Homo sapiens: one gene and its partners. The protein of the gene in region 3 purifies or fractionates together with the protein of the main gene of each other region. This does not show direct contact. Each region holds a gene or a part of one and is shown on either strand. Other genes may lie near its edges.

Region 1 (3,500 bases), on a different chromosome or scaffold from region 3:
CCATTCCTTATAAGCTAATAAGACTTTGATTTCTCCCTCCTCTGAACTCCTACAACACTTTTTCCTACAAGTAGTTATGTATCTTGTGGAGGAGATAAGATTTTATGTGCCTAAAATGCTAATATATTCCAATCATCTTTTTGTTTTTATCTTCCACAGAGCTAGGCACGGTATGTTACATGTAATAGGTAATCAGAAAATATATGTAAAATGAATGATTAAACTCTATAACCAAACCAAAGCAAAAATCTAACATAATAATTAATAATATTTGCTCCACTGCTATACATTTGGAATTGAAAGCTAACTTTCTTCAGGGCAACCTCATAAGTTTGTCCGTTGCATTTCTGTCATTAGGCATATGGTACCGTGGTGGAGTAGCATCACTGATTGTTGTCAGTTTTAGTTCAATAACCAAAGCACACTTACTTTTTATCCTAAAATTTTTGAGTTACTTTATTTGTGAGCATCATTTGCTAAGATAAAGTGACTTACAGGATAACATTCTTTGAGGAATAAGATATAAAAATTTGCTGTTTGTAGAAATTTTAACTGCACACTGTATTTTGGGATGTTCATTAGTCCTCTGATTAAGTTTTCTTTACAATATCTAGAGAGGGATGGATATTAAAGTAGGGAAACCGCATCCTAAGGGTATAGTTCCTTAGGTGCTGATGTTTTGGGAGAGCAACTTTTAAACTTCTGCTTTTCAAAGCATATTAGAAAAAGACAAGGTGAAGCTTCGATTTTGGTTTACTTATAAAATTGTTTTTACTGATCTTGAGTAACTTATACTATAATATTGTAATATATTCATATTTTTGAGTGCATGAATGTTTGCTAAGTATGAACTCTTTCTTCAACTACTCTGACTGTAGTGACTTAATAACTGTGCATGTACATGTGTGCTTGCCTGCTACGTTTGCCATAACACCACAGATTGGGTGGCTTATACAACAGAAATGTATTTTCTCACAGTTCTGGAACCCATGAAGTCCAAGATGAAGGTGTCAGTAGAGTTGATTTCTTCTGAGGTCTCTCTCCTTGGCATGTAGATGGCCATCTTATACCTCTGTCTTCACACTGTCTTTTCCACTGTTTGTGTCTGTGTCCTGATATCCTCTTCTTAGAAGTATACTGGTCATATTGGATTAAGGCCCACCTTAATGACCTCATTGAACTTTAATTACCTCTTTAAGGGCCCTGTTTCCAAATATAGTCACATTCTGAAGTATTAGAGGTTAGGACTTCAACATATAAATTTGTGGGGGTGGGGAGTACACAGTTCAGACCATAACAATGTGTGTATGTGTTTGTATGTGTGTGTATGTATATGCAAATACATAGAAAATTGGAAAGATATACTCCAGTCTGGTAAAAGTGGTTACCTCGGGGGTTGGGGGGGGGTTTGGGATGCTAAAAAACAAACAAAAAAAATTTAATTTGCTATTATGGATACACAGACATAGTTTGATATACTGTACTTGTTTTTACAATGAGAAAAATATTTCATGTTTAAGCTTTTCAATTGATGAACTGACCTTTTTGAGTAGGTTATATTATGTTCATTTATTTGAAGTCCAATTTGTTTTGTCTGCTAGTAGTAATGCATTTTATCATCTCTGTAACTTTTATTTTATTTGTTTATTTTTTATTTTTTATTTTTTTGCGATGGAGTTGTGCTCTGTCACCCAGGTTGGAATGCAGTGGCACAATCTTGGCTCACTGCCACCTCTGCCTCCCAGGTTCAAGCGATTCTCCTGCCTCAGCCTCCCAAGTAGCTGGGATTACAGGCGCACACCACCACACCTGGCTAATTTTTGTATTTTTAGTAGAGATAGGGTTTCGCCATGTTGGCCAGGCTAGTCTCGAACTCCTGACCTCAGGTGATCCGCCCACCTCGGCCTTCCAAAGTGCTGGGATTACAGGCCTGAGCCACCACGCCTGGCCTTGTAACTTTTATTTTAAGTTCAGGAGTACATGTGCAGGTTTGTTACATAGGTAAACTTATGTCATGGAGGTTTGTTGTACAAATTATTTTATCACCCAGGTATTAAGCCTAGTAGCCATTAGTTATTTTTTCTGATCCTCTCCCTTCTTCCACCTTCCACCCTCTGATAGGCCCCAGTGTGTGTTGTTTCCTTGTATGTGTCTATGTGTTCTCATCATTTAGCTCCTACTTGTAAGTGAGAACATGTAGTACTTAGTTTTCTGTTCCTGTGTTAATTTGCTAAGGATAATGGCCTCCAGCTCCAGCCATGTCACTGCAAAGGACGTGATTTTGTTCTTTTTTATGGCTGCATAGTATTCCATGATATATTTGTACCACATTTTCTTTATCTAGTCTGTCATTGATAGGCATTTAGGTTGATTCCATGTGTTTGCTATTGTGAATGGTACTGCAATGAACATACGCATGCATGTGTCTTTATAATAGAATGATTTATATTCCTTGGGGTACATACCCAGTAATAGGATTGCTGGGTCAAATGGTAATTCTGTTTTTCATTCTTTGAGGAATTGCCACACTGCTCTCCACAGTAGTTGAACTAATTTACACTCCCACCAACAGTGCATATAAGTGTTCCTTTTTCTTCATAACCTCACCAGCATCTGTTATTTTTTGACTTTTTAATACTAGCCATTCTGACTGGTGTTAGGTGGTGTTTTGTTGTGATTTTGATTTGCATTTCTCTAATGATTAGTGATGTTGAGCATTTTTTTTTTTGTGTGCTTGTTGGCTGCATGTATGTCTTCTTTGGAAAAGTGTTTTTTTCATATACTTTGTCCACTTTATGTTTTTTTTTCTTGTAAATTTGTTTAAGTTCCTTATAGATGCTGGATATTATTAGAGCTTTGTTGGACGCATAATTTGCAAAAATTTTCTCCCATTCTATAGGTTGTCTGCTTACTCTGTTGACAGTTTCTTTTGCTATGCAGAAGTTCTTTAGTTTAATTAGACCTCATTTGTCAATTTTTACTTTTGTTGCAGTTGCTTTTGTTGTTTTTGTCATGAAATCTTTTCCCGTGTCTCTGTCCTGAATGGTATTACTTAGGTTGTCTTCCATGGTTTTTATACTTTTGGATTTTACATGTAAGTCTTTAATCCATCTTGAGTTAATTTTTGTTTATGGTATAAGGAAGGCTCCAGTTTCAATCTTCGGCCTGTGGCTAGCCAGTTATCCCAGCACCATTTATTGAATAAGGACTCCTTTCCCCATTGCTTGTTTTTGTCAGGTTTGTTGAAGATGATATGGTTGTAGGTGTTAGGCCTTATTTCTGGAGTCTCTATTCTGTTCCATTGGTCTGTGTGTCTGTTTTTGTACCAGTACCATGCGGTTTTGGTTACTGTAGCCTTGTAGTATAGTTTGAAATCAGGTAATGTGATACCTCCAGCTTCATTCTTTTTTCTTAGGATTGCCTTGGCTATTTGGATTCTTTTTTGTTTCCATTTGGATTTTAAAATAGTTGTCTCTAGTTCTGTGAACAATGTCAATTAC
Region 2 (3,500 bases), on a different chromosome or scaffold from region 3:
TTTTGAAAATAAGTTTATAGTTGTAAAAAAGAAATGGTCAACATAAAACATGTATTATTTTCATTTGTCTTAAAATGAAGGTTATGAAATCAACTTGTCTAACAAACTTGTGTTTTGGTCTCAGATTAGACTGTCCCTTTGATACAGCAGTGCAATTGGCAGCTTATAATCTGCAAGGTAAGCAATTCTTATGTTGACTGTTAAGACTCAAGTATAATCTTTTTTGTGTGTGTTTTTAGTTAAAGAAGATTCTAATTATGTGCAAGAAAAGAAACAACACTGTTTTTGTATAAACTTGTATCAGGGTCCAACTCTGACTTTTACTTGTTTTAGAACATTGCCTTCTTTTTCTTCTCTTTCATGTAATTGCGCCCTTTCCACCTAAAGTGTTGAAACGTCATACTCTACCTGATAAGTCTGTAAATGCTAAGATTGGGCCTTCGGCTAACTTTTTCCTTAAAAGAAATGCAGTTATGTAGGAGTGAATTGTTGGTGAAGCCATATAGCTTAGCAGTCCTTTTGCTCCAAACCTACATTTTGTTCAGAAATAACCACAGATGAGTACATACATGTTTGTGCATTGTTCAGATTTTTCCCTGCTGCTTTCTCCCCCCGATTTTTTTTAGTTCCTTTCAGTTATTTCTTTAGGATTAATAATTTTAAAATTTTGGAAGACAGGGACTATATTTAGATTGGTATATGGGGTCATATTCAGTGTATATCAGTATATTCTTTTGTTTTGTTTTTTTTTGAGACAGGGTCTCACTCTTGTCCCCAGGCTAGAGGGCAGTTGCATGATTGTAGCTCTCTGAAGCCTTGAACTACTGGGCTCAAACGATCTTCCTGCCTGAGTAGCTGGGTCTACAGGCCATTAGGCCTGGCTAATTTTTGTACTTTTTTTTTTTTTTTTTTTTTTTTTTAGAGACGAGGTCTTGCTATGTTGCCTAGACTGGCCTGAAACCATCTTCCACCTCAGCCCTCCCAAAGTACTGTGACTATAAGCATGAACCACCACACCCAGCCTTAGTAATATTCTTAATAGATGCCAGTTAATTGTCTTTTAACGATTGCTAAATTTTTTCATTTATTCACTATAAGGTCAGAGGTATTTCTTTATGGAAGTCTAGAAAGCAGTTTTCAAAGGTTAAGTAAGCACTGAAGTGTGAATACATTAAGAGAAAGATATGTAATTAAAAATACACTACCAAAAATAAATATGAGATATATGTGTATGACTAATATGCCAGATTTACTTTTGGAGACTTGTCTGAGTATTATGAATTTTTGTAAGAAATTCCTAAGAATCTTTCTAATCTTAGCAGTTTTCATTAATGAAATGGTTTTTGAAGGATTTAGCAGGAAATACATATAACTTTTGAAACTTATGTTTATAGCTGAACTTGGTGACTATGATCTTGCTGAGCATAGTCCTGAACTTGTCTCAGAGTTCAGATTCGTGCCTATTCAGACTGAAGAGATGGAACTGGCTATTTTTGAGAAATGGAAGGAATACAGGTATCTGGCGTTTGACCATACTTTCTTTAAAATCACCACAACAGTTATTTCATATTCATTTTCTTCTGTTTCTATCCTTGGTATAGAATTTATTTTATATTTATTGTTACTTTAAAAATCATTGTTTTAAATTTCAGAGGTCAAACACCAGCACAGGCTGAAACCAATTATCTGAATAAAGCCAAATGGCTAGAAATGTATGGGGTTGATATGCATGTGGTCAAGGTAAGCATTGTGTTGTGATGCTTTTTTAAAAATTTATTCTTTGGAGGTTCGCAGTGACTGTGGAATTTTTCAGTATGAGGGAGGGCATGGAGTTTGCATAAGCTAGCACTGGGTACTTTGGATGTATGGTTAAAAAGTTTGAGATTAAATACCAAATGACTAGAATCTCACAGAAAGGTTCATTATAAGAAAGAAGAGAAGCAACCAACATCCCTAACAAGGTACTTGGTCCTTTTAAGCTGTTATTTTATTTTATTTTATTTTTTTGCTATAAAAAATTGTTTTAAGCTTTTGAGCCATTTGTTATCCTTTTTACTTCCTGTTATACGACTTACACTGAGTAGGCTCTGTTAAAATAATTCAGGATGCAAAGTTGAAGATTTATAGCTTAAAGACTTTGATAAACTTTAGAACAGCTTTGTAGTGATTTAAGTTATTTCTAGTTTAACTAGTAACATTTTTCCAGAAAGGCGGTTGTATTAGTTCATTCTCGCACTGCTATAAAGACATAAATTTATAAAGAGGTTCAATTGGCTCATGGTTTTGCAGGCTGTACAGGCTTCTCCCTCTCAGGAGGCCTCAGGAAACTTATAATCATTGGGCAACGTGAAGGGCAAACAGGCACATCTGTACATGGCTGGCAGGAGGGAGAGAGAGCAAAGAGGGAGGTGCTACACACTTTCAGACAACCAGATCTTGTGAGAACTCATTCACTATCATGAGAACAGCAAGGGGGAAGTCCGTCTCCATGATTCAGTCACCTCCCACCAGGCCCCTCCTCCAATACTGGGGATTACAATATGACACAAGATTTGGGTGTAGACATAGAGCCAAACCGTATCAGCAGTCTTTTCCAAAATACATGATTTAAGTGGTAAGTATAATATGGGAAGAATGTGGAAACAGCTTTGTTTGTAGTGGGAGTGTAACTACCCACTTTCAATGAAGATACACTTTAAAACTCTAGTGTTTCAATGACTAGAAATAAAAATATATGCATAAATTTTTCTGAGAATATTATTATGGATACTCTAATTGTTGAAAACATCTCATATATTAATATTAGCCTGTATATAATTAATACAATTCAATACAAAAATAAAATTTAAAAGTTGTGTCAATGTGAAACCTGTTTTGTACAAATAAAGCTAACACATTTTTCTCCCCTTAAATTAGGCTAGAGATGGGAATGACTATAGTTTGGGACTAACACCAACAGGAGTCCTTGTTTTTGAAGGAGATACCAAAATTGGCTTATTTTTTTGGTAAGCAAGAGTTATTGTCAAAGATACTTACTGTTGTTTTGGTTTTTAATGAGTAAATAAAGTTAATACATAAACAAGTTTGGAAATCAAATAGTTTTGAAAAACTTGTCAATGAAAGCAACTGTCTCCTGTCACACTATTACGCATCATTATTCCTACTCTCCAGAGGCAATTATTAAAACTCTTCTAGCTGTATTTCCCATTAGTTTCAAAGTATACCACAATCTATATCTTGATATAAATATTTATATTTTTATATGTATCAGATGTTCACATGGGCACTTTCTCCCTCCATGTAGTCATGTCATTGCTTTTAATATTTATTATTCCACAATCCCTTTACCCCCTATTGTGTAAGAGGAAGATACTAATATTTTTATCCCTTCTCTAAGCTGTGCTCCTTATACTGTTCCAGCTTTTATCGTTCATACTTTTAAATTACATTTATGTTTTACTTTTACATCAAGGATAGATTTTACTTGGATTTCTTGGCCA
Region 3 (3,500 bases):
CCCTGGTCCCACGCACTTCAGGTAAGGGGTGCTCACCCTGTCCGGCCTCTTCACAGCAAGGTTGCCAAGGCCTGGTCTAGAGGGTGGTGGACTTCACAGCCATGGAGAAGGGTGCTGCTTTAACTTGGAACGTTATTTAATGTTTAATGCTAAATTGCGGTAACTTTTCCTTTTGCATGCATATTTAGTAAATCATTCTCGAGGCACTGAGGTCTCAGAGCCATCTCCGCCCGTGAGAGACCCTGAGGGGGTAACGCAGGCCCCTGGAGTGGAGCCCAGCAATGGCCTGGAGAAGCCTGCACGGGAGCTGAACGGCAGCGAGGCCGCCACCCCGCGGGACTCACCCCGCCCCGGGAAGCCAGACGAGAGGGACATCTGGCCCCCTGCCCAGGCCCCCACCAGCAGCCAAGAGCTGGCAGGCGCTCCTGAGCCCCAGGGATCCTGTGCGCAGGGTGGCCGGGTGGCACCGGGACAGCGGCCTGCCCAGGGTGCCACGGGCACTGACCTGGACTTTGACTTATCCAGCGACAGCGAGAGCAGCAGTGAGTCCGAGGGCACGAAGTCCTCCTCCTCCGCCTCTGATGGCGAAAGCGAGGGGAAAAGAGGCCGGCAGAAGCCGAAGGCTGCCCCAGAGGGAGCCGGGGCGCTGGCACAGGGCAGTTCCCTGGAGCCGGGGCGGCCTGCAGCACCGAGTCTCCCCGGAGAGGCCGAGCCTGGCGCGCATGCCCCGGACAAGGAGCCTGAGCTGGGTGGGCAGGAGGAGGGCGAGCGGGATGGCCTCTGCGGCCTGGGCAACGGCTGTGCCGACAGGAAGGAGGCGGAGACCGAGTCACAGAACAGCGAGCTGTCGGGGGTCACTGCGGGTGAGTCCCTGGACCAGAGCATGGAGGAGGAGGAGGAGGAGGACACGGATGAGGATGACCACCTCATCTACCTGGAGGAGATCCTGGTCCGTGTACACACTGACTACTATGCCAAGTATGACCGCTACCTCAACAAGGAGATCGAGGAGGCGCCGGACATCCGCAAGATCGTGCCGGAGCTCAAGAGCAAGGTGCTGGCAGACGTGGCCATAATTTTCAGTGGGCTACACCCGACAAACTTCCCGATAGAGAAGACGCGGGAGCATTACCACGCCACGGCGCTGGGAGCGAAGATCCTCACTCGGCTGGTGCTGAGCCCCGACGCCCCTGACAGGGCCACGCACCTGATCGCCGCGCGAGCTGGTGAGTGCTGCCTCCCTGTGCCCTGGGCATGGTCAGGCCCGCGGGCTCCTTGCAGGCACTCCTTAGAGTTGGCATTGCTGTTTATCTCACTTTCAATTTTCAGAAACATTTCCCAGAATCACCATCTTTTAAGAATAGATCATGACAGTGGGTGAAATTGGAGTTTGGGCACGTTCATGCTTTCAGACCGCAGTCATCGCACACACCATTCAGGGGTGGGAGTTACTCGTGTGTAGAAAGTTCAACCTTCTCCCTGGAGTAAGCCATGGCCGGGTTGGAAAACAGGGAATCAGCGATAGGGACGTAGTGGAGAAATTCGAGGCAGGAACAGGAGTTCGCAGGTAAAAGATTGACAAACCCTCTGAGTTAGAAAACTAAATGCAAGGTTTCAGCTGAAACGTGCACAGAAGGACACGTTGTGGCTGGGAGGGCGGAGGACAGGCCTGCTGTCTCCCGACGGTGAAACCTGTCCCGGACGGGGCAGGCTGCTCTGACATGTTGAAACTTCCGCCGAATAAAACAACCTTTCAGCAATAGGTGATTCTTGAAGGAAGACTTAACACCCCGGTGCTTAAAAAACCCAAATACCTCGTTATTCTAGTTATTCTGTGAAAATGCTCCCATAAGCACCTGGATTTTCCGCGAATGAAGATTGCGGTTTTTCTCCTCCAATCTGCTTCCTGTCCTGGCGGCGTTTCCTGAGAGGGCTTCTCAGTGCGTGGCCCCGCCTCCGGGGCTCAGGAAAGCCTTGTGGGGTGAGCTCATCCCTGTCCACGCACGCTCCCTGACAGCAGGTGTGGTCTTATTTGAGGCCACGGCTCTGGCACGTATCATGGGGCGTTGGACACGCATGTGCTCAGTAAAGCATTTGAATCAAGGGTAAATGGAAGGTTCCATCTCAGTGTGAAATAGCCAGGTGCTAGCTGCAGGGCAGAGGCGGGCTTTCCGTGGAGCCCAGCGAGACCCTTGATCCCAGGAGAAAGCCAAGCCCTGGCCTCCTGTGGGCAGTCAGACCCTTCTCTCCTGAGCGTGGAGCCGGGCCAGGCCGGGGTCCTCCTTGGCCCCTCAGGTGCCTGTCTGCCCTGCCGCGTGTCTGCCCAGCTCCTGACCCTTCTCTCCTGAGCATGGAGCTGGGCCAGGCCAGGGTCCTCCTTGGCCCCTCAGGTGCCCGCCTGCCCTGTCCTGTGAGTGCCCAAGCTCCTGGCCCTTCTCTCGCATTCCTTCCTTCCCCCTGAATTGTGCTCACGTTTCCTTTTTGCTTCTGTGTACGTGGCCTCACTGTTGAGAGGCTTTGCTGAACACATGCTAAGAGAGGTCCTCCTGCTGCTCAGGTCACCCGCTGTGCCCGGCTCCCCGTCTGAGATCCACCCCTTCCCACCATGGCTGCCTATCCCTGGCCTGGCAGATGGGAACCTGCAGTGGGCAGCCCTGGTGGGGTGCAGCCGGGTGAGGGCCCTGGTGGGGTGCAGCCGAGTGAGGGCCCTGAGCCCTAGTGGGGTACAGCTGGGTAAAGGCCCTGAGTCCTGGTGGGTACAGCCGGGTGAGGGCCCTGAGCCCTGGTGGGCTGCAGCCGAGTGAGGGCCCTGAGCCCTGGTGGGGTACAGCTGGGTGAAGGCCCTGAGTCCTGGTGGGTACTGCCAGGTGAGGGCCCTGGGCCCTGGTGGGGTGTAGCCGGGTGGGGGCCCTGGTGGGGTGCAGCCGAGTGAGGGCCCTGAGCCCTGGTGGGGTACAGCTGGGTGAAGGCCCTGAGTCCTGGAGAGGTGCAGCCGAGTGAGGGCCTTGGTGGGGTGCAGCCGGGTGAGGGCCCTGGTGGGGTACAGCTGGGTGAGGGCCCTGAGCCCTGCAGGGGTGCAGTCAGGTGAAGGCCCTGGTGGGATGCAGCCGAGTGAGGGCCCTGAGCCCTGGTGGGGTACAGCCAGGTGAGGGCCCTGGTGGGTGCAGCCGGATGTGGGCCCTGAGCCTCCAGTGCTGGCCGGAACAGCCTGACGCAGCCGGGTCTCCTGCAGGCACAGAGAAGGTGCTGCAGGCACAGGAGTGCGGACACCTGCACGTGGTCAACCCTGACTGGCTGTGGAGCTGCCTGGAGCGCTGGGACAAGGTGGAGGAGCAGCTCTTCCCGCTCAGGGACGATCACACCAAGGCACAGAGGTGGGTCCTCGCTGCACCCAGCAGGTCCGTGCCAGGCGTTCCCTTGCTGGACAGCTGTTGGTTCATGCACCTGGGCAGTGCCCCTCATCACCCGGACGCCCCGCTCATGGCCCTCGTTCTCTTCCT
Region 4 (3,500 bases), on a different chromosome or scaffold from region 3:
TCAGCCTCCAAAGTGCTAGGATTACAGGCGTGAGCCACCACACCCGGCTGAGACCTCATCTTAAAAAAGAAAAAAAAGAAAAAGAAAAACCCAGCAGGACTTGTGGATAACAGCAAGATGAATCTAAAATATGCACAAAAGGCAATGCAACTAAAATACCCAAAAAACAATTCTGAAAAATAATAAGATAACTCACACTACCTGATTTTAAAACTTACTCTAAGGTGACAGTAATCAACAGTGAGGTGATAGAGAAATGAAAGACACAGATCAATGGAATAGGAGAGAGAATCCAGAAACAAAACCACACATTTATGATCAACTTGCAAAAAAAAAAAGGCACAAAGGTAATCAACAGAGAAAGGACAGTCTTTTCAAAAACTGTTGCTGGAAAAATTGTAAATCCATCCACAAAAAAATAAACTCAATGCATACCTTGCACCATTTAGGAAAATTAAATCAAAGCAGATAATAAATGTAAATATAAAATTTTAAATGATAAAACTTCTAGGCGAGCCGGGCACAATAGCTCACGCCTGTAATCCCAGCACTTTGGGAGGCTGCGGTGGGTGGCTCACTTGAGGTCAGGAGTTCAGACCACCCTGGTCAACATGGTGAAACCCCATCACTAGTAAAAATACAAAAATTAGGCATGGTGGTGGGTGCCTGTAATCCCAGCTACTCAGGAGGCTGAGGCAGGAGAATCACTTGAACCCGGGAGGCGGAGATTCCAGTGAACAAGATCTCACTCACGCCAGCCTGGATGACAGAGTGAGACTCCATCTCTAAAAAAAAAAATAATAACTTGTAGGAGGAAATATAGGGGAAAGTCTTTGAGCTCTTAAGTTAGGCAAAGATTTCTAAACTATTATACCAAAAGCATGATCCACTCAGGGAAAAAACAAAAAAACAAAAAAACACTGGATATCATAAAAATTAAGAACTTCTGCTCTTCAAAAGACATTATTAAGACAAGAAGGCCAGACACAGTGGCTCGCGCCTGTAATCCCAGCACTTTGGGAGGCCGAGGCAGGCAGATCACTTGAGGTTAGGAGTTCAAGATCAGCCTGGCCAACATGGAAAAGCCCCATCTCTACTAAAATACAAAAATTAGCTGGGTGTGGTGGTGTGTGCCTGTAATCCCAGCTACTCGGGAGGTTAAGGCAGGAGAATCACTTGAACCCAGGAGGCAGACGTTGCAGTGAGCCAAGATCTCACCACTGTACTCCAGCCTAGGTGACAGAGCCAAACTCCATCTCGAAACAAACAAACAAAAAAAGACATTATTAAGACAAGTAAAAACAGACTAGGAGAAAATATCTGCAAATCATGTATTTGATTCCAAAGTATATACAAAAACTCATTTTTTAAGCAAAAGATTTTGAATTGACATCAAAGAATGACAAATAATCAGATGAAAAGATACTTAATATCATTAGTCATTGGGCAAATGAATAAAAAGGCTACATTCCGTGTGATTCCATTTTTACAACATTCTTGAAAAGGCAAAAAACCATGGAGACAGAAAACAGATCAGCAATTTCCAGAGTCTGGGGGTAGAGAACCGGTTGAGTACAAAAGGGCTCAGAAGAATTCTGGAGGATGAAGGGACTGTCCTGTTTGCAGCAGTGGATATATGAATGTATACACCTGTCAAAACTCAGAGAATGTTACACTAAAATGGCGGAATTTTAGTGAATGTAAACTATACATATGAATAATTAAAGAATGAAAAAATAGAGACTAAAGAGACATAATGATGTGCTGAGTGAACTTTAATTTTACTCTGTCCAAAATTTTTCTTAATCAACTATAAAAGATATTTGGGAGACAAATAGAGAAAGTTGAATAGGTATTGAATAATATTATAGAATTAACGTTAATCTTTCTTGTTGTGAATAACTGCAGTTGGTTATGTAGAAAAAGGGTCAGCAAACTTCTGTAAAAGCCCAGATAGTAAATATTTTCTGCTTTGCAGATCACATGGTCTCTGTTGTAACTACTCAACTCTGCTACTATAGCACCAAAGTAGCCAGAGAAGAGCTTACAGAGTGACATAAATGGTCAAAAACCTCACACGTTTTCCTTCTCTCCCATACTAGCACCCATATCATACAAACACACTGATATCCACATTCCCCAGGCACTGAACACAGCATTGCCCCACACAAATGTTCATACAATCACGGTATTTCAGTACCAGGTCCATCCTTACAGCAAGGTCTGACAAAAACACATTATCCATTCATCTTCTATTCATAACGTCACAATCAACTTGTAGGTGGACGAGAAAACTATAAATATGAGGACAAACGCAGGAAACAAACTTTCTTCCACTGACCAGTGAGGACAGATGCATGAAACAAACCTTTTTTTTTTTTTTTTTCAGACGGAGTCTCGCTCTGTCGCCCAGACTGGAGCACAGTGGCATGATCTCGGCTCATTGCAACCTCCACCTCCCGGGTTCAAGCGATTCTCCTGCCTCAGCCTCCCAAGTAGCTGGGATTACAGGCACCTGCCACCCTGCCGGGCTAGTTTTTGTATTTTTAGTAGAGATGTGGTTTCACCATGTTGGCCAGGCTGGTCTTGAACTCCTGACCTCAAGTGATCCGCCCGCCTCAGCCTCCCAAAGTGCTGGGATTACAGGCGTGAGCCACTGCGCCAGGCTATGAAACAAACTTTCTTCCACCCACAGCTTTCTCGTCTCTCCCCATTTACAGCAGTAAGACAGCCTAACCTGGGAAAGAGAGAGGGAAGCTACTTCCAAATGGATGCCTGTCCCCATCAGTAATAACCAAGTCTATTCAAGTGCCAGATGTTAACTTTAAAAGAAGGGAACATCAAAAGTCCAACTTTCTTCGCCTAGCTTTGTCAGGAATGTTTTTACCCTCAATCTGTAAGTGTGACCAACTGTAATTTTTAAAGGTTTATCCTCAATCTGTAAGTTTGATCAAATATAATTTTTAAAGGTTTACTATAATCTCTTCATCAGAAAACTAATGGAAAGATGGAATAAAATCTAAAGAAATGTCCTTAACAGGTAAATATTTCTAGAATGTATCTACTCCATCTAGGTAGTGTAAGTATTCTAAACTATGCTAGTATAACTGATTTAAATCACTGCCTTCTTCTGTAAATGGTGTCACCTTTAAAGTGTTATCTTGAAGAGGAAGTGAGTGATTTGCTCATGTCTCTGTACTGAACTAACACTGTTAACACCCAGTCCAGCTCTACCTTAAACAAGTTTGAGAAATACAGACACAATCCACACTTATTTGCCAAGACTAAGGTAAAATAAAGTTGGAACTCATATCCTCTTATGACTGATGTACTGAAAACAATCCATCTCTCACTGTTGCCCAAATAGCATAGTCACAAAGAGCTCTACCCTACCAAGCCACTCTGCAAGTCCCACTCTCAAAGGAAGACTCACAGGTGACTGAGAAGATAAACTCGCTATTGTTTCCATTATCCTTCAGTTCATCTGGCACCTTTGAAGA
Region 5 (3,500 bases), on a different chromosome or scaffold from region 3:
GACATGTATAGCCAGGGGATGGTGGTAACCATTCAGTGCGACAGTTGACATCAGAGAGTGGGGGAGGTGACAGCACCATTGGGGGCAGCTGCTGGAGCATCTAGGAAGAGGAAGGCATAAATCTGAATGGCACTCAGGGCTATCCTAATGGATAGAGAGCCTAGGGCACCATGTGGCTTGAAATCAGGCATGCAGTCGAAGTCCAGTGCATGCTGGTGAGTGAGCTGGTGATTCCTACCTCTGGGGATAAACCTGAACAATGTTGAGATCATTACTTGATTACTTGATATCTGATTTTAGGAAAGTATAGAAAACTCGAGGCAACTATTGTGCACAAATGAAGATGTTTCCAGCCCTGCCTCGGCGGACCAAAGGGTATGTTTCACGTGCTCAGGTCTGGCTGGTTGCCCTCAGATGGTTCTGCCTGCATGGTCTGAAGTCAGGTGGAATTTGGCCATTAATCTCTGTCTCCGTCTCTTTTCTTTCTTTTTTCCTTCCCTTGGGAGCCACTGTTCTATTGGCTATTAATGCTGTCATTGTTATATACTGCCCAGAGGACCAGCTTTGCAAAACTGGGTTAGTTTTTTAAATGTAGTTAGAATTCTGTCCCATAAACCAGACAGCAAGTTTCCTCCTACACAGTGGATATTTGTGGGGATTCCCTGCAGCTGATTCCTGGAGCCCAGTGGCAAACCCCAGAATTCAGACAGGGCTCTGACGTCAGAATTCATTCTCCACTGCAGGCAGCGTTCCTGCCGATAGGCTCAAACGGACTGTTCCTTATCTACCTTGCAGTATGTGGGGCTTTCTGGAGCTCACAAACACCAGCTCCTCAAGACAGCCTATGGAGAGCTCACATATTTAACTTTTTCTAAGAATGTGCTGGGGACCCTGGGCTGACAGCTTGGCTCTGTTGCAAGTAACTTGACTGATGGCATGGTGTGTCATCAGCACACAGCCTGCTCTGCTCTGAGCCAGAGGCAAGCCGGATTCGGGGACTCATCTGAGGGATAAGTTAGGTGTTGGTATTCTCCAAGGGTAGAGACAGGACTTTTTAATGTTCTGGTCCATTTCTCTGTGTGGCTCGTCTCTTTGCTTGTCATTAGTTCATTTGTTTATTCATATGATCCATTTATTTTGATTTGTTCTGTCAATGTGGTAAATAACAGCTCTGGCCTTCACTCTCTGAAAGGTAGAACAAATGTGGTCCCAGAAATGAGACAGGCAAAGAAATTCTTTGCTGTTGAGCCACCTTTAAAAGCTTTTTTTTTTTTTTTGTTTTTTTTTGTTGTTGTTGTTGTTTTTTTAAGGCTGGGTGTGATGGCTTAACCCTGTAATTCCAATGGTTTGGGAGGATGACTTGATGCCAAGACTGCAAGACCAGCCTGGGCCGTATAGCAAGACCCCATCTCTACTAAAAATTAAACAACTAGTTGGGAATGGTGGCGTGAGCCTGTAGTTTCAGCTATTCAGGAGGGTGAGGTGGGAGGATCGTTTGAACCCAGTAGTTCGAGGCTGTTCTGCAGTGAGTGATGATTGTGCCACTATACCCCAGCCCTGGGTGACAGAGCAAGACCTTGTCTCTTAAAAAAAATTTAAAATGAAACAAAGCTATTCTTTTTTCTCCTTTAAGATACAAGAAGCTTGGAAGCGGAGTCTTGTAAGTTTCAGCCCCTTCCTAATTTTTAGTGTCCTATAATAACAAAACCAGACATCCAGCTAACCTTGCATCTCTCCTTTTGAAGGCAACAGTGCATCCCGACAGCAGCAACCTGATCCCCAAGCTTTTTCGACCTGCAGGTGAGTTGGTTCTAATTTTCAGAAGTGGGTTGGGAAGATGTAGTTTCTAACACTTAGAAAACTCTGCCTGCCGGATCACCTGGGGTCAGGAGTTCGAGACCAGCCTGGCCAACATGGTGAAACCCCGTCTCTACTAAAAATGTAAAAAATTAGTTGGGCATTGTGGTGGCACGTGCCTGTAGTCCCAGTTACTCAGGAGGCTGAGGCAGGAGAATTGCTTGAACTTGAACCCGGGAGCCGGAGGTTGCAGTGAGCTGAGATCATGCCATTGCGCTCCAGCCTGGGCAACAAGAGTGAAACTCCGTGTCCAAAAAAAAAAAAAAAAAGAAAAGAAAACTCTGCCTGCCTTGCTTTAATTATTTCTCCCCCAGCAGGATTTCTTTCTTTTTTTTTTTTTTTGAAACAGTGTCTTGCTCTGTCACCTAGGCTGGAGTTCAGTGGCACAATCTCGGCTCACTACAACCTCCGCCTCCCAGGTTCAAGTGATTTCTCCTGCCTCAGCCTCCTGAGTAGCTGGGATTACAGGTGCCTGCCACCATGCCCAGCTAATTTTTTTCCTTTGTGTATTTTTAGTAGAGACAGGGTTTCACTATGTTGGCCAGGCTGGTCTCGAACTCCTGACCTTCTGATCCGCCCACTTGGCCTCCCAAAGTGCTGGAATTACAGGCGTGAGCCACTGTGCCTGGCCATGTTATAGTAATTTTATGTACATACTTTATTATTATTGTCATTTTTAGAGACAGGGTCTCGCTCTGTTACCCAGGCTGGAGTACAGTAGCACCATAATAGCTCAAAGCAGCCTCCAACTCCCAGGCTCAGCTGATCCTTCTACCTCAGCCTCCTGAGTAGCTGGGACTACAGGGTCATGCCGCCACACCTGGCTTTAAATTTTTTATGGAGGTGGGGGTCTCGCTACCTCTACAAAATAGAGGCTGGTCTCGAACTCCTGGCCTCAACCCATCCTCCAGCCTCAGCCTACCAAAGTGCTGAGACCTTGACCCCCCACTTTATTAGAAAAACAAAGAATGAGTGGAAAAAGTCCTTTGAGGTCTGTGCCTTCTGGAAGCTGGGGAAGAGGTGTTCAGGTGGGTAGTCCCCTTCTGGCCCCCTCTGCCTGGGCAACTGTGATCACTGACACCTCCTCTCTTCTCTTCCTGCCAGCGTTCCTGCCTTTCATGGCACCCACGGTGAGCAAGCAGACATTTGCCGTTAGGAGACTAGGGGCTTGGGAAGATGGCCACTCTCCTCCTAACCTCAGCTGTGTCCCTCCAGCTCCGGACCCCTGTCACATGACTGCCTGATAGATGGTTGTGGATCCCCACTGATAACCCATGGCTGCTGTTCATACGTCCTTGTCCCCACTCCCTCCCCCTCCCCACACCCTCCCAGTCAGGCATCCGGGCCTCTGGAAGGCCCACAGCTTGGCAAGGTCATCCCTTTTCTGAACACCAAGTATGCGCAGAGCACGGTAGAAGCGGCCAGTGAGTTAGGATGAGCTCCCTGCACAAACCCCTGGCCACCAAGTCCTCCTCTGACACAGCCCCTCACCTGGGACCTGGCATTGTCCCTGTGAGGCTTTTCTCACCTTGGCCCTTGGGAGGTGCTTTTTGGTTTTTTGGGTTTTTTTTGTTTTTCGAGACAGAGTCTGGCTCTGTTGCCCAGGCTGGAGTGCACTGGCGCAATCTCAGCTCGCTGCAACC
Region 6 (3,500 bases), on a different chromosome or scaffold from region 3:
AGACAGAAGATGTGTGTGTTTGTATACACATATATCTACACATTCATCCATGTATCTTTCTATAACTACACAAATATATAATAAAAAGCATGTACTTACACTAATACTTCCAATTCCATTCCAACACCATAGGATTTATTCTAGCCTTCACCTTTTCCATTTCATGACTCCCTCCAGCTGCCACGATTCCCTGTATGTTTACCCATCTGCCCGTTTCCCTGTGTGTACCTGTCTCACCTCTGCCACCCACCTCCACGGTCCCCAGTGTCTCCTTGGCTCCAGCTGTAAGACCTGCCAGTCCTGCCACCTGAAGGGAAGGGAAGGGGAAGAAAGAAAGGAAGTGAACCAATTAATACTTTTAAAAGAAAAGGAAAGGGAAGATAAAGCAAGGCTTTTATTATTTTTTAATAAAATAAATAAAACTGCAGATAAAATGCCTTTTCTTGCCTCCTGTATTCTGTTCTTTCATTCATGTGTGATGTACGCATCCTATCCACATTCTCTGTGTGCTGCATTTGTATGCATCTGTAAATCATATGTAGTATTTTATCTCTACTTAAAATTTTATATAAATGGGACTGTACTCCAAATACCATTCTAAAACTTGCCTTATTTATTCAATACGGGTACTGAAGCCATATTGAATATATCTGCGTTAATAGAGATTAATCCATTTCTGTAATTTGGACTGTTGGATGATATTCTGTTTTATTGATTTATCACATTTTCATCGCTGTTTGATATTTGATCACATGCTGCAGTTCTTCATGTCAGGAAACATCTTCATTCAAATTTTTCTGAGTATATGTATGAATTTCCATTCCACACTGGGAGGTGGGCTTGGAGGATATTCATATTTTAAGCTTTACTAAGCAATTCTAAATTGGATGTGTCAGTGTACACACCCACCAGTTGTAGACGACAAGCTTTGTTTCTTCATGTCTTTGTTAACCTTGAATATCATGATGCTTTTTAATTTTTGGTAATTTTATAAGTGTGAAATAGACTCATGTCTACACTTGCATTTCCCCGACATCTAATGAGGCTGAGAATGTCTTCAAATCATGATTATTAGAAATACATAGAGTTTTTAATTCAGAAGGCAGTATTTTGAAAGCCTGTGGCTTTCTCGTTATTTCACATTTCAAGTATGTTTACTCTTTCAGTGTTTGATGAATCTTCTCCCAAGTGAATGAGAAAGAGTGCCTTAATTGGTCAGGTTCCAGTTAACAACATTCACTTGCAATTGGATGAAGATGAAAAGTGAGGAGTCTCCTACTTTTGTAAATGAAATGTTTTTTTACACGTGTAGGAATTAGAGTGACTTACATGATATAAGATCTTTAAAATGTTATAAAATTTCTAATTAGGCTGAATATGTGTGATATCTTGAACATTTCCTACATGGTCTTTACTGTATAAAACACAGCTGAAGGGAAAGAAATAGACAACCATCTTAGGCCTTAGCATTCCCCCCGTTTATTTTAAAAAGTAAACATTAAGGACCTAGTGGAATTAGGTCGTCACATAATTGCTCCAACACAGCTGGATAGACATGTGTTCCTGTTGGCTGTCAACCCACACTCTACTGCACAGCTTGAATAGTTCTTTTATCTGCTTGGTACCAAAGCCAAAATCCTGGTATACAAGAGCAATTTAGGGGTGTTGATGTATGAGTTTAGTTGGCCAAATGTCACTCCCATGACAGTCAGGGCTGCCCAGACGACCCTTCATTCATCCTGAATGATTTCTGGAGCGTGAGCTGTGTGCCCTTGTTCCTTCCTCTAGATATCAGCTGAACCTCTTTGCGAGGATGTGTCTGGACCGCCAATACCTGGCCATCAACGAAATCTCAGGCCAGCTGGATGTCGATCTCATTCTCCGCTGCATGTCTGACGAGAACCTGCCCTATGACCTCAGGGCGTCCTTCTGCCGCCTCATGCTTCACATGCATGTGGACCGAGATCCCCAGGAACAAGTCACCCCCGTGAAATATGCCCGCCTCTGGTCGGAGATTCCCTCGGAGATCGCCATTGACGAGTGAGCCTGGCACCTGAAAACCTCACTTTACATTATTCTGTGCGGCAGTAGATAGCCCCATATGGTCTCATTAAATCTTAGAAGAAAGATGAAGTGTTGGTTTTTTCTTCAAGCTTAAAATAAAATTAAGTGGATGGCAAATATTTTTTTCCTCAAGAATGTGAAAGATGGCATGATTATGTTTTTGGTTTTTGTTTGTTTGTTTGTTTGTTTGAGATGGAGTCTCACTCTGTTGCCCAGGCTGAACTGCAGTGGCGCAATCTCGGCTCACTACAAGCTCTGCCTCCCGGGTTCGTGCCATTCTCCTTCCTCAGCCTCCCAAGTAGCTGGGACTACAGACGCCCACCACCACGCCCGGCTAATTTTTTGTATTTTTAGTAGGGACGGGGTTTCACCGTGTTAGCTAGGACGGTCTCGATCTCCTGACCTTGTGAGCCGTCCACCTCGGCCTCCCAAAGTGCTGGGATTACAGGCGTGAGCCACCGCGCCTGGCCCCGATTGTATTTTTTATATCTCATTTATCTCCTCTTTCATTCTGCAAATATTTAAGTGTGTACTATGTGCCAAGCTCAAGAAATATATCAGTGAACAAACTAGAAAGCAATCTCTATGCTAGTTGGTGGAAGACAGACAATAGGCAAGATAAACGACTCAAATATATAGTTGGTGATATATGCTAAGGAGGGAAAAAATAAAGTAGGGTCAAGGGATGCCAAGGGTTAGGGGATGTTGACTTTTGAAGCTGAGTGACCCAGGAAGACCTCTCTGGGAATAACTTGAAATTTTGTTTCCTTTCTTTCTCCTTTCTTTTCAGCTATGATAGTAGTGGAGCTTCCAAAGATGAAATTAAGGAGAGATTTGCTCAGACCATGGAGTTTGTGGAGGAGTATTTAAGAGATGTGGTTTGTCAGAGGTTCCCTTTCTCTGATAAAGAGAAGAATAAGCTTACGTTTGAGGTAACTCATGATGAAATCTTCTATGTGTATTATCTGCCTCTCAGTGGTCATTTTTCTATGGGGCAAATAGAAAATATGTGAGTAGGTTGTGATTTTGGTCATGATGCTCTGGTTTTGTAATGGAAAGGAATTCAGCTTGGTTTTGTTCCAGAATAAAATAAAACGGATACCAGTCACATGGCTTAATAGTAGTTATGGGCTTAAAAGAAATATACAAGGTGACTTGAACCACATAAAATGATAGAACATCACTTTGTGTTAAAACTGACAAGAGAGAAACACTGTGCTTGCAATCTGCCATAGCTTAATCATTTGCAGAACATAAATCCTTGTTACTTCTGAGTTAACAACGTTTCTGAGACTGCTTTTGCCTTTTAAGAGCTGTATTGCTGAGGATCGCAGAGTGTTATTATCTGTGTCCTTATTGGGAATAACTCTGCTTGCCTGGTGTTAATATTATCCTTGGGAAGCTGTGTAGAGCAAATGATGAGGTCTTTTTTTTTT
Region 7 (2,995 bases), on a different chromosome or scaffold from region 3:
CTGTGCCAGGCCTTGTGACCCCTGCCATGCTACCCAGTTTGGCTGATAGGCTGGGTTTTTGAAGCTCAGAGGTCTGATTCCAGGAATTTGGGCATATCTTTTCTGTCCTCGGTTCTGGCAGGTTCTCTTGGCCAACACCTTCTGCGTGGAAGCTTACTTGCAGAATCTCTTCAGCCTCTCTCAGCTGGACAAGTGTGAGTGGCATGTCTTGGGGGAGGGAAGGAAGGGCCCACTTCTAGGCCCCTATTGATGGTGAGCTGTTTCTGGACCCTGTCAAGCTCCCAGAGCCTGCTAGCTACTCACAGACCTCTGCCTTGAGCGAGGGCCTGGGTAGGCCTGGGCTTAGCTGCAGCAGTGCCCACCAGGCACTGTAGGTGCATACCTGCCCCATTCACCAAGGCAGTTGTATGTATATATGTGTGTGTGTGTATGTATGTATGTATGTATTTATTTCGAGATGGAGTTTCGCTCTTGTTGCCCAAGCTGGAGTGTAATGGCGCAGTCTTGGCTCCCTGCAAACTCCACCTCTTGGGTTCAAGCGATTCTTCTGCCCCAGCCTCCCGAGTAGCTGGGATTACAGGCGCACGCCACCACGCCCGGCTAATTTTTTGTATTTTTAGTAGAAACAGGGTTTCACCATGTTAGCCAGGCTGGTCTCCAACTCCTGACCTCAGGTGATCTGCCTGCCTCAGCCTCCAAAAATGCTGGGATTACAGGCATGAGCCACCGCACCGGGCCTGCCAAGGCAATTTTAGATTGAGCAAGTGCAGAGCCCTTTGCGCAGGACCCCTGGCATCTGCCCAGCATGCCTGGCTGTATTCTCTTTTTTTTGGAGACATAGTCTCACTTTGTCACCCAGGCTGGCTGGAGTGCAGTGGCATGATCTTGGCTCACTGCAACCTCCACCTCCTGGGTTCAAGCAACTCCTGTGCCTCAGCCTCCTGAGTAGTTGGGATTATAGGCACGCACCACCATGCCCAGCTAATATTTGTATTTTTAGTAGAAACAAACAGGGTTTCACCATGTTGGCCAAGCTGGTCTCCAACCCCTGACCTCAGGTGATCCGCCCACCTTGGCCTCCCAAAGTGCTGGGATTACAGGCATGAGCCACTGTGCCCAGCCCTGGCTGTATTCTTGAAGCTGCCCGGGGAAGGCTCACGAAGGGAGGAGCATCTGGTTGTACCTGATTCTGGAGACAGCATTTTACCTGCCCCTTTACCCACTGTACTCCATCCAAAATGACCCTGCAGTGCCCTGCAGAGGTCTCAGGCCTTGGCCTAGAGAACAGAGGGCTTTGCTCGTGCTCCCCGCTCTGTCTGCAGTGCTCTTCCTCTTCTATAGCCACTCGACCATATCTAGGAATGCCCAGCTCAGTCTACCTCTGACCCTCACAGTCCTGTTGACCTGAGGTTCTGGATCAGTGTCCCCACAAAGCCCAGTCGTGTTGCCAAGTGATGGGTGTAGGCGCCAGCACTGTGGCACTTGCTGAGAGTGGCATATGATTTTTTGCAGGTCCTAGCCCTGGGGGTAGCCCAGACACCCCCCCAGTGCTGACAGGTTATGTGCTGTGGAGGGTGCTGAAATGGTTTCTCCTCCAGTGGGCTGGAATCACAGATGGGCTGTTTACGGAGCAAGTGCCGGCTCCACCCCATGAGATCTGGGGGTTAGAGATGAGCAGGATGAGTCCTTTGTAACTGAGAATGAAGCTGTACCCCTTTCTCTCCCTGCAGCCCTGAATCACTTGCTGGGGGTCTGGAGGAGGGGTTCACCCTTAGGGCTGCTTCATGGTGGGTGGGCTGACTTTGTGGAAAAATGCCCCCACTTCAGCCATGTTTGTCTTATCACGGTGCAGAAAGATCACCCACCATCTCTCCTTTTCCTTCCCAGATGCTCCAGAAAACCTAGATGAGCAGATTAAGAAAGTGTCCCAGCAGATCCTTGAGAAGCGAGCCTATATCTGTGCCCACCCTCTGGACAGGACATGCTGAGGCAGGGGACAGTGTCCCCTGCTACCGCCCGCCCCTACCCATGGCCCGTTGCTGGATGACTGTTACTCTTTTTTCAGAAGGTGTTGGGATTATCACAGGTTAAGCCTTTTGTTCCCCGTCTGCACCTGAAGGGTTGTCGCCTGGCCTGGGAGAGCCTCTTCCAGGTTTTGACCTGCAGGCAGTGCTCTCTAACAGGACCATCACAGCTTCTGAACTGAGCCGGAGAGAGAGAATGGAATTGCTGACCCCTGGAACTGGCGGGTATTCTGGTCATTGAGGAGACACCATAGTGGAAACTGGGGCTTATGCTGCTGCCTCCAGGGTGTGAGGTGGGTGGGGACCTGTGTCAGGTGTGGATAGCCATTTCTGCTCAACCACACATTCTCTAAGAAACAGCTTGAAAGCTCTGTCTGGGTCATTCATTTAAACTAGAAGCAGAGGCACTTAAAACATGTACCAGGAACCATTTAACAAAGAATATAAAATGTCACAATCTGTGTACTGTTAGCCTTTGCTGTACTTGTCACACTGTTCCTTAGAACCAGCCTTTAATGGGTGACAGCAGGACCCTGAGAACCACCCTTTGGTGATGGCCTCGGGTCCCCTTTGTCCTCACCCTGCAAGGAGGGCCCAGAATGCTAAGGAGCAGACACACAGTGCAGGCCACAATCCCTTGGGGTTATGAGCCCTTAGTTTTTATCCTTCTCAGGAGATGATGGGGAGGCTGTCTCAGCTGATGATGTTCCCACCTAGGGACTTTAGTTTCTTTACAAGAACTGGCTTCTACTCTTGAGGAGAGGATGAATGGTATCTCCAGGCCAGCAGGCCTTTGCATTTCTCCAGCCTCCCTTCTGCTGGCACTTGAAAGATTACACCAGGTCCCAGCGTGCTCACTGTGGTGAACTTTAAGCTTTGATGTGGTCCTTGGGTGGTCTGGAGCTCTAAAATGCCTATTGTGGACACTCCCTTGAGCACAGAGAAGGCAGCCGACTCTTTTTCCTCCAAGT

What was found.
Region 1: the proteins of CTDP1 (region 3) and ABCB7 purify together in Homo sapiens (affinity purification with mass spectrometry; one large-scale study listed by BioGRID and IntAct). This does not show direct contact.
Region 2: the proteins of CTDP1 (region 3) and EPB41L5 purify together in Homo sapiens (affinity purification with mass spectrometry; one large-scale study listed by BioGRID and IntAct). This does not show direct contact.
Region 4: the proteins of CTDP1 (region 3) and AKAP13 purify together in Homo sapiens (affinity purification with mass spectrometry; one large-scale study listed by BioGRID and IntAct). This does not show direct contact.
Region 5: the proteins of CTDP1 (region 3) and SFXN4 purify together in Homo sapiens (affinity purification with mass spectrometry; one large-scale study listed by BioGRID and IntAct). This does not show direct contact.
Region 6: the proteins of CTDP1 (region 3) and ITPR1 purify together in Homo sapiens (affinity purification with mass spectrometry; one large-scale study listed by BioGRID and IntAct). This does not show direct contact.
Region 7: the proteins of CTDP1 (region 3) and ACAD9 purify together in Homo sapiens (affinity purification with mass spectrometry; one large-scale study listed by BioGRID and IntAct). This does not show direct contact.

What each region holds. Positions count from the first base shown.
Region 1 is NC_000023.11:75,146,284-75,149,783, reverse strand, and holds part of ABCB7 (iron-sulfur clusters transporter ABCB7, mitochondrial), read left to right. Parts: intron 1-3,500. UniProt on the Homo sapiens protein: Exports glutathione-coordinated iron-sulfur clusters such as [2Fe-2S]-(GS)4 cluster from the mitochondria to the cytosol in an ATP-dependent manner allowing the assembly of the cytosolic iron-sulfur (Fe/S) cluster-containing proteins and participates in iron homeostasis.
Region 2 is NC_000002.12:120,075,577-120,079,076, forward strand, and holds part of EPB41L5 (band 4.1-like protein 5), read left to right. Parts: intron 1-124; coding exon 125-177; intron 178-1,394; coding exon 1,395-1,515; intron 1,516-1,652; coding exon 1,653-1,740; intron 1,741-2,916; coding exon 2,917-3,005; intron 3,006-3,500. UniProt on the Homo sapiens protein: Plays a role in the formation and organization of tight junctions during the establishment of polarity in epithelial cells.
Region 3 is NC_000018.10:79,714,303-79,717,802, forward strand, and holds part of CTDP1 (RNA polymerase II subunit A C-terminal domain phosphatase), read left to right. Parts: intron 1-188; coding exon 189-1,226; intron 1,227-3,232; coding exon 3,233-3,374; intron 3,375-3,500. UniProt on the Homo sapiens protein: Processively dephosphorylates 'Ser-2' and 'Ser-5' of the heptad repeats YSPTSPS in the C-terminal domain of the largest RNA polymerase II subunit. This promotes the activity of RNA polymerase II.
Region 4 is NC_000015.10:85,383,603-85,387,102, reverse strand, and holds part of AKAP13 (A-kinase anchor protein 13), read right to left. Parts: intron 3,428-3,500; exon of another isoform or gene 3,368-3,427; intron 3,041-3,367; exon of another isoform or gene 2,993-3,040; intron 2,897-2,992; exon of another isoform or gene 2,706-2,896; intron 1-2,705. UniProt on the Homo sapiens protein: Scaffold protein that plays an important role in assembling signaling complexes downstream of several types of G protein-coupled receptors.
Region 5 is NC_000010.11:119,159,215-119,162,714, reverse strand, and holds part of SFXN4 (sideroflexin-4), read left to right. Parts: intron 1-300; coding exon 301-375; intron 376-1,633; coding exon 1,634-1,660; exon of another isoform or gene 1,661-1,745; coding exon 1,746-1,800; intron 1,801-2,961; coding exon 2,962-2,987; intron 2,988-3,500. UniProt on the Homo sapiens protein: Mitochondrial amino-acid transporter. Does not act as a serine transporter: not able to mediate transport of serine into mitochondria.
Region 6 is NC_000003.12:4,671,348-4,674,847, forward strand, and holds part of ITPR1 (inositol 1,4,5-trisphosphate-gated calcium channel ITPR1), read left to right. Parts: intron 1-1,788; coding exon 1,789-2,040; intron 2,041-2,854; coding exon 2,855-2,996; intron 2,997-3,500. UniProt on the Homo sapiens protein: Inositol 1,4,5-trisphosphate-gated calcium channel that, upon inositol 1,4,5-trisphosphate binding, mediates calcium release from the endoplasmic reticulum (ER).
Region 7 is NC_000003.12:128,910,620-128,913,614, forward strand, and holds the end of ACAD9 (complex I assembly factor ACAD9, mitochondrial), read left to right. Parts: intron 1-121; coding exon 122-194; intron 195-1,887; coding exon 1,888-1,988; 3' UTR 1,989-2,495; downstream 2,496-2,995. UniProt on the Homo sapiens protein: As part of the MCIA complex, primarily participates in the assembly of the mitochondrial complex I and therefore plays a role in oxidative phosphorylation.